Homo sapiens: one gene and its partner. The protein of the gene in region 1 purifies or fractionates together with the protein of each later gene. This does not show direct contact. Each region holds a gene or a part of one and is shown in the gene's direction. Other genes may lie near its edges. The genes, in order: TRAM1 and HM13.

Region 1 (4,394 bases):
GAACCCGCTGAAAAACTTTCTGCCAGTAGAAGCATCATTCTAGTATAAACGTTGAAAGGTGATCTGAAGGGAAATGAAACTAGTGATTGCCCAGAAGGAGGAAAAGAATAATCCCTGACTAAATTTATAAAGCCCTTACTCCCCGCTAAGCAGTTTCCTTCAATCATCTCATTTAATCACTAAAATGAGCAATAGTTATCCCCACTTTATAGATGATATCCACAGGGCTTGCTCCCTCACCTCCTGCAGGTCTTCAGGCAAGTATAAGTGCCTCGCACTTTCCTATTCCCCTTGCTTTATTTTTCTCCTGGTTGCTCAACTCAATTTAACATCTGTTTCGCTTTTGAAATCTTGTTTAAAGATTCTCTCCCACACTAGAATGATAAGTCCCTAGGAATAATTTAATTTGTATTTCAGTTCTGTATCCCCAGTGCCCAGGACACAGTCAACCCTCAGTAAGTACATAAATGAATACATTTTTAAAAATGAGGAAATCGGGTCCCATAGAGATTAAGTAACTTGTCCTTGATCGTACAAGTAATAAGTGGCAGAATTCTGATTTAACAACCCACATTCTTAAACCACTAAGTGGTTACACCAGAGTTGTAATATTGTAGGCAAGAGGCAAGTACCCTCGGACTGCGGTAGTGGGGAAGCGGGGTGATAGGTCTGCCTCGAATTGGTGATGACTGGATGTGGAAGGGCGCTGAAAGGGCTCAATCTAGCATGACTTTGGTTTCTACATTTGGCTTATGGGTAAACAGGAGAGCAATTCTTCAGGAAAAAGAATACAAAGGACTCCAGGTTTGGGCAAAACGATAAGAGGAGGACGTGTCTTAATCCACGATCCTTTTTAACTCTTTTACTATTTCCCTTAGATTACTAAAACATGTTGTTAATTTGAATATATGTGAAGCCAGTAAACCCAAACTGATCCCTTCGTCTTCAGTCTGAGGCCAGTGGGGGATAGGGGTGGGGATGGGGACGGGGATGGGGGTGGGGACGGAGAGGCAGACCAGAATAGGGTCAGCTCTTTTTTTTTTTTTAAGTTAGTCCAAACTTACCAAGAGTAGAAATAAGTCCCCAGCAGTGCTTAACTCTGAGGTAATTTTTAAGGCAGATGCTAAAACTGGAGAATACACCGTACCCTTGTGGAGTCAGGTAGTATTCGTAGTTTTAGATTATCCTGACGGTGTTAGTCACTTGTAGAAGTGACAATGTGCAACAGGCCACTGACACCCAATCCCTGGATGGCCAGGAGGGCAGGAGGGCACCCGGCCGCGGCCTCAGGCTGCTGAGCAGGCGCAGGAAGCTCGCGCCTCAAACGACTCCCAAACCCGGGCCCGGCGCGAAGCAGGGAAGCGCCGCTCACATTCCTGCACGCTCGCCCGGCCGCGGGCCAGCGGCCTCCGGTCCCCAGGTGGCGCTGTGGGCTCGCGGAGGCGGCCGCGGCACCAGGGAGCGTCGTCTCCCTGGTGCGCATGCTCGCCCCCGCTGCGGGCTAGCTGTTGTGTTTTTTTTTTTCCCCCGGGCGGCCCGGCGGCTGCGTACTGGCTGTGGGATGGGAAGTGAAGCCCCAGCGAGCGGCTGCAGCGGGGCCGTGAGGAGCAGCCAGCGGGAGGCGGCGGCGAGTCGGTGAGCAGCTGGGAAGAGCAGAACCGGGGCGGAGCACCTGCAGGCGCGGGCGGCGGCCCCACCATGGCGATTCGCAAGAAAAGCACCAAGAGCCCCCCAGTGCTGAGCCACGAATTCGTCCTGCAGAATCACGCGGACATCGTCTCCTGTGTGGCGATGGTCTTCCTGCTGGGGCTCATGTTTGAGGTGAGCCCGCCCCGAGTCCCAACCGCCTGCCCCGCCACCTCCAGCCCGGGCCCGGGCTCCAGATGCCAGCCCCGGCTTCTCCGCCCAGGACGCGGGGGGCTCGGGCCCGGGGTGGGTGCAGACCCCCAGTCCCTGAGGTGCAGGCCTTCCCTGCCCTGCCCCACGTCGGCGGCAGCTCCCCGGCGGCCGGCCCGGAGATGCAAAGTCCCGGTGGGCCTCATCGCGGCCCGCAGGGGGTGGGGACCGCCGCGTCGCCCCCTTCCTGACCCGCCGCCGCCCCCTCCCGCAGGCTGCGCGGCGCAGTTCCTGGTTCCCGCGAAGGGTTACGTGGCAGCCGGCGAGGGGCCTGCGGGCGGGGGCGGCCCCTGCGCTGCCGAGCTGGCTCGGGGCGGGTGGGCGGACTTGGGGGGACTGCCAGCCTCGGCCGCGGTGAGCGTCAGCCCCGCGAGGGCCGGGGAAGGCCGAGGCCCGGCCCCCGGGTCTGAGGAGTGCCGGCCTGGAGACCACAGGCCCCGAGTGACAGGGGAGCCCCCGGTAGCTCCGAGATTGGGGTGAGCGAGAAACCGGAGTCAGGCATCTGCTTTCGACTTGAAGGGCGGTGGCCGCCGGGCACCGGCGCAGTGGAGGCGCGCCAGATTGTTTTCATTTTTGTCTTTTAAACTGATATTATTACCAGTTAACGAACTTTTTGCCCTGACGCTTTAAAGAAACAAGGTCTGATGGATAAATCGAGGTTCTGAACAGCGGTGCCAAGGAATCGAGTAATTTTGTTTCTTGAAGTAGGAGAGGATGGGAATGTCAGGAGTGTGTAAATTCTCTTCCCACGTATCTAGTATTTTGATGACTTATTTAACAGCTGTTGAATGTGGATGATAAACTTTGCAAGGTGAACGAGTAACATCCTACGTTTTTCCCCTCGCTCCCCAATACACACGCTCATTCCTTTGCTTTTTTCCCTTTTTAATTTTTCTCTGGAGCCTTTATGTCTCAGTAAATATACAAATTATTTTGCTCCTGCCTTGTTTTGTCTCCTCTCTCCTGCATGTAACAAGTGAGAGTAGAGATTTTGGAGTATTTTTACGAGTCTGTATTTCCAGAGTCTAGGATAGTGCCTGGGACATAGGAGTGCTTAAAAAAAGATGAGCGACGTTAAGAATCCTTGAGAAAACCTAATGGAATGATATTACCAGTGACCAAAAGGTGAATACATTTTCTTTTTAATGGAGCATATTTGTTTTTTTTTTTAATTTTAAAATTAAATAATATTTTAACCTTATTTTCGCCTCTCATCAAATGGGCTTTTCTGGATCTAGATACAGATATTATTTACTCCTGATTGTGTCATGCATGTTTGAAACCACTGCTAAGGAGGTAGCAGGTATAGTTAAAGGGTAGGTAGAAGGAAACTAACATTCTCAAGCTTTAAGTCTGGGCTGTGCCACCTACCTACTGGGTGACCCAAGTCTGAGCCTCAATTTTTCTGCTCTTTATCAGGAAATAATATCACCTGTACTGTTCTCCTCACAGCCATTTTTTGCAAGTATCAGATGATATGGTGTGAAGGTAAATACAGTGCTAGGCCTGGTGCTCTGGCTTATGCCTGTAAACATCCCAACACTTTGGGAGGCCAAGGCAGGAGAATCACTGGAGCCCAGGAGTTCGAGACCAGCCTAGGCAACATAGGGAGACCCTGTCTCTACAAATGATTTTTTAAAAATTAGCCAGGAGTGATAGATAGCACGCACCTGTGGTCTCAGCTGGGCGGCTGAGGTGGGATAATTACTTGAGCCCAGGAGGTGGAGGCTGCGGTGAGCCAAGGTTTCACCACTGCACTCCAGCCTGAAGGACAGAGCAAGAAGACCCTGTCTCAAAAAAAACCCAATGTTAAACATTTGTATTCACTTTCTGAATTTGATACTTGCATGTACTTTCTGCTTTGACCTTAAAGTAGTACTTTAATATATGTAGTATATTCAATTTTCTGTAACTTGTCATAAACCATCTCCACATGGTAAGAATTCCTGACTTTAAAAACATATTTTAGGGGTACTGTGACCTGCAAGGTATATTTGCAGTGCTTTGAATGAAATGAAATATAAATCAGAAATTCTGACACATAGTATAACTTTGATTTTATATAAACTATTTTACATTCTCTTACTATATTTCTAGGGAAGTCCACCACCTATACCTTGCCTCACATGTTAGTGATTTTTTTAAACAGTGGATTTTCACCTTTATATAAATTTATAAAATTTGAAAATCTAAATAGACAAAAATACTAAATAGAGGTTTTTAAGTCAATTCAAAAGTGAGTGTTAAAGTGATACACAAAAGTGAAGTTTGTGCGAGTTCTTCCTTTTTCTTACCATATATTAAGGTGTTAGGATTTCAAAGCATGTTATCTATATATAGGACTTTGTAGACTAGGTTAGTTTTGCTATTCGACTTTTAAAACAATTGCTGCTGAATCTCAAAGTTAACATAATTATAGAATTACAGTACTTGTGCTAGAATAATAGAGAAATTGATTTTTTTTTGCAGAACTGTTAAGCCTGTTGTGCAGATACATT
Region 2 (3,809 bases), on another chromosome or scaffold:
CTTCATGATTATTTTATTCGTATATATTTTTAGTGTGATCACTGCCTCACCTAAGGTTTGAAAAGGGGGTTCCACAGCTCTTTTTTCAAAAATAAAAACTGGCCAGAAACAGTGTCTCATGCCTGTAATCACAGCAATTTGGGAGGCCAAGACAGGATGATCACTTGAGGCCAGGAATTTGAGACCAGCCTAGGCAACATAGTGAGACCTCATCTCTACAAAAAAATTGTAAAAAAATGCAAACTATGGGGAAGTGTGGAGATCCTGGGATTTGTAGGTTAGTTAGGGTATGGATTCAAATGCTGTAACAAGATTATCAATGCTTGACCAAACAGCAGGTATTTCTTTGTTTTTTGTTTTTTGAGACAGAGTCTTGTTCTGTCACCCAGGGTGGAGTGCAGTGGTGCGATCTCAGCTCACTGAAACCTCAGCCAACTGAGTAATTGAGATTACAGGCGTGTGCTACCACACCCAGCTAATTTTTTTGTATTTTTAGTAGAGATGGAGTTTTGCCATGCTAGCCAGGCTGGTCTCAAACTCCTGACCTCAAGTGATCTGCCCACCTCAGCCTCCCAAAGCGCTAGAATTACAGGCGTGAGTGAGCCACCACGCCCAGCAGGTATTTCTCTTGTATACAATACTGAGCATGTGAAATCTAGCACTTTTTTTTTTTTTTTTTTTTTTCGAGACAGGGTCTCGCTCTGTCGCCCAGGCTGGAGTGCAGCGGCACAATCTTGGCTCACTGCAAGCTCCACCCCCTGGGTTCACGCCATTCTCCTGCCTCAGCCTCCCGAGTAGCTGGGACTACAGGCGCCCGCCACTACGCCCGGCTAATTTTTTTGTATTTTTAGTAGAGACGGGGTTTCACCGTGTTAGGATGGTCTCCATCCCCTGACCTCTTGATTCGCCTCCCAAAGTGCTAGGATTACAGGCGTGAGCCACCGCGCCCGGCCGTAGCACTCTCTCTTACTGGTGCCTAGCACATGCTGCCTTGTCCCTAATCGGCAGCAATTTTATGTGATTGCTTTGTGCATCTCTAAGGAACCTCTGTTAAACAATTGTTGATTTTTTTTTTTTAAAGACTGAGCTTGGGCCAGGTGAGATGGCTCACGCCTCCCAGCACTTTGGGAGGCTGAGGCAGGCGGATGACTTGAGATCAGGAGTTCCAGACCAGCCTGGCCATCACGGCGAAACCCCGTCTCTACTAAAAACACAAAAAAAATTAGCCAGGCATGGTGGCGTGTACCTGTAATCCTAGCTACTCGGGAGGCTGAGGCAGGAGAATCGCTTTAACCTGGGAAGGCGGAGGTTGCAGTGAGCCGAAATCGCGCCACTGCACTCCAGCCAGGGCGACAGAGTGAGACCCTGTCTCAAAAAAAAAAAAAAAAGACTAAGCTTGGCCAGGCGCGGTGGCTCATGCCTGTAATCCCAACACTTTGGGAGGCTGATGCAGGAGGGTCACTTGAGCCCTGGAGTTCGAGGCTGCAGTAAGCCACGGTCAGTGCACTCCAGCCTGGGCGACAGAGCAAGACCCCGTCTAAAAAAATAAATAAATAAAACAGTAAAAAGGCTAGGCTTATACCACAGTCTTCAAGGTCCCAGGCCCTCTCTATCTCATGCTCCGCCATATACAGCACTGGCCCTCGGGTCAGGATAGTGTCATCACTCCACTGTCCAGCCAGAAGGAAGGAGAGGCATCCATATTCCCTGTCCATTTAGCTATAAGAGAAGCTGGAAAATGGCCGTGAGTCGGTCTCGTGTCCAGTTAGAACTAACTCATCAGGGTGCGCATCTGCAGTCTTCTGTTCCGGCAAGGAGAAAGCATTCGTATCATTTCTAGCTTGTCAAGCCCTACTGTTTCAGCGATCCTCATTGGAGAGGAATCAGCAGTCGAAGGAACAGCGGGCCAAGCGCAGTCGTGACGTGGCGTTCAGAGAGCGGAAGTTGTCAGATTTCACCGGGCCGTAAAGCGCGCTGGCTGTGTCATCTTCCGGTTAGCGACAACGGCTCTGACCGTCTGGCAGGCCGCGTGGCGCCCGCGCCGGCCTTCCTGCAGGGGACTCCACCGGAGCCTTGCCAATTCCGTTTGTTTCCCTGTTGTCGCCCGCTTCACCCTGGATCATGTTCAAGAAGTTTGATGAAAAGGAAAGTGTGTCCAACTGCATCCAGTTGAAAACGTCAGTTATTAAGGGCATTAAGAGCCAACTGGTAGAGCAATTTCCAGGTATTGAACCATGGCTTAATCAAATCATGCCTAAGAAAGATCCTGTCAAAATAGTCCGATGCCACGAACATACAGAAATCCTTACCGTAAGTGGGGAATTATTGTTTTTTAGACAAAGAAAGGGGCCTTTTTGTCCAACTCTAAGGTTGCTTCACAAATACCCTTTTATCCTGCCACACCAGCAGGTTGATAAAGGAGCTATCAAATTTGTACTCAGTGGCGCAAATATTATGTGTCCAGGTTTAACTTCTCCTGGAGCTAAGCTGTACCCTGCTGCAGTAGATACGATTGTAGCAGTCACAGCGGAAGGAAAACAGCATGCTCTGTGTGTTGGGGTCATGAAGATGTCTGCAGAAGATATTGAGAAAGTCAACAAAGGAATTGGCATTGAAAATATCCATTATTTAAATGATGGGCTGTGGCACATGAAGACATATAAATGAGCCTCAGAAGGAATGCATTTGGGGGGCTAAATGTGGATATTGATTGTGTCGTATGTGTGTTTGTGTCTGTGTGTGACAGCGTGAATACAATGCCTCTGTGGTTATGCTAAATAAGTTTAACAGATACTTTATAGAAAACAAATCAGGGTGCTCTTACCACAGATGAAAAAACAAATTAGGGGACAAGCAGCAAGCAGTCTGCTAACACTCTGGAATGTGAAAGGAGTGTCTGGACTCTGTGACTCCCGGCAAACTCCACAGCCTCTAGTTGTCTTCTTAGGAAGCTTGGAAGCAATTGAGAATGGTCTAACATCAAGATGTCTACCACAGGGCCCCCCACAAAAGCAGCCTCGGGGACTCCGGCCTTTCCTTGAGACCTGCATCTCTTCCCTTCTTCATCGCCTGCTAGTGAACTGAGGCTGCCGCTAACCTTCTTCATCCTTTGGTGGCAAAGTAGAAAGATTCCAGAATTAACTCGACCTTTCTAAAGACCTGGGCTCAGAGGCAGCTGGCACTGACTGAGCACCCACTATGTGCCAGGCACTGTGCTGAATGCATTGTAAGGACTGTCTTACTTATTCCCCCACAGCAGCCCTAAGAAGGGGTGCTGTTATCCCCTTTTTACAGATAAGAAAACTGAAGCTCAGAGAGGGCACTGCCTTCCCCAAGGTCACCCAGCTACAAGTAACAAAGCCTGTGCTTCTAACACCAAAGACCACTTCCCGCTGACACTGTGCCAGGCTTGTAAGTCTCTCTCTGGGCCTCCATTCCCTCCTGTAGGAAATTGGAGGGGTTGGGGTGGCTCCAGTGAGCTCTCCCCTTCTGAAACTCATACTAATCTGGGGCAGCCAAGGCTTAGCCCCGCCAGCCTGTGAACCTCTCACAGTGCCCACAGCCATGCCCTCCTCCGTCCAGGGGCTGACAGGTGGGAGGGGTAGCCCTGCCTCAGGGAGTGGACTTACCTGGCCTCTCTGCTCAGAGATCATCAATTATGAATTTGACACCAAGGACCTGGTGTGCCTGGGCCTGAGCAGCATCGTTGGCGTCTGGTACCTGCTGAGGAAGGTGAGTAGTCAGGACCTGGGCAGAAGGGGAGGATGGGGTTGACAGGGCAGGGTGGGTCACAGCAAGCTGGTCTCACT

What was found.
Region 2: the proteins of TRAM1 (region 1) and HM13 purify together in Homo sapiens (affinity purification with western blotting, with the first as the bait; one study listed by BioGRID). This does not show direct contact.

What each region holds. Positions count from the first base shown.
Region 1 is NC_000008.11:70,605,504-70,609,897, reverse strand, and holds the start of TRAM1 (translocating chain-associated membrane protein 1), read left to right. Parts: upstream 1-1,481; 5' UTR 1,482-1,698; coding exon 1,699-1,821; intron 1,822-2,228; exon of another isoform or gene 2,229-3,021; intron 3,022-4,394. UniProt on the Homo sapiens protein: Involved in the translocation of nascent protein chains into or through the endoplasmic reticulum (ER) membrane by facilitating the proper chain positioning at the SEC61 channel.
Region 2 is NC_000020.11:31,545,383-31,549,191, forward strand, and holds part of HM13 (signal peptide peptidase), read left to right. Parts: intron 1-1,996; exon of another isoform or gene 1,997-2,121; coding exon of another isoform or gene 2,122-2,667; exon of another isoform or gene 2,668-2,699; intron 2,700-3,646; coding exon 3,647-3,732; intron 3,733-3,809. Other genes in the region: MCTS2 (malignant T-cell-amplified sequence 2), read left to right, coding at 2,122-2,667. UniProt on the Homo sapiens protein: Catalyzes intramembrane proteolysis of signal peptides that have been removed from precursors of secretory and membrane proteins, resulting in the release of the fragment from the ER membrane into the cytoplasm.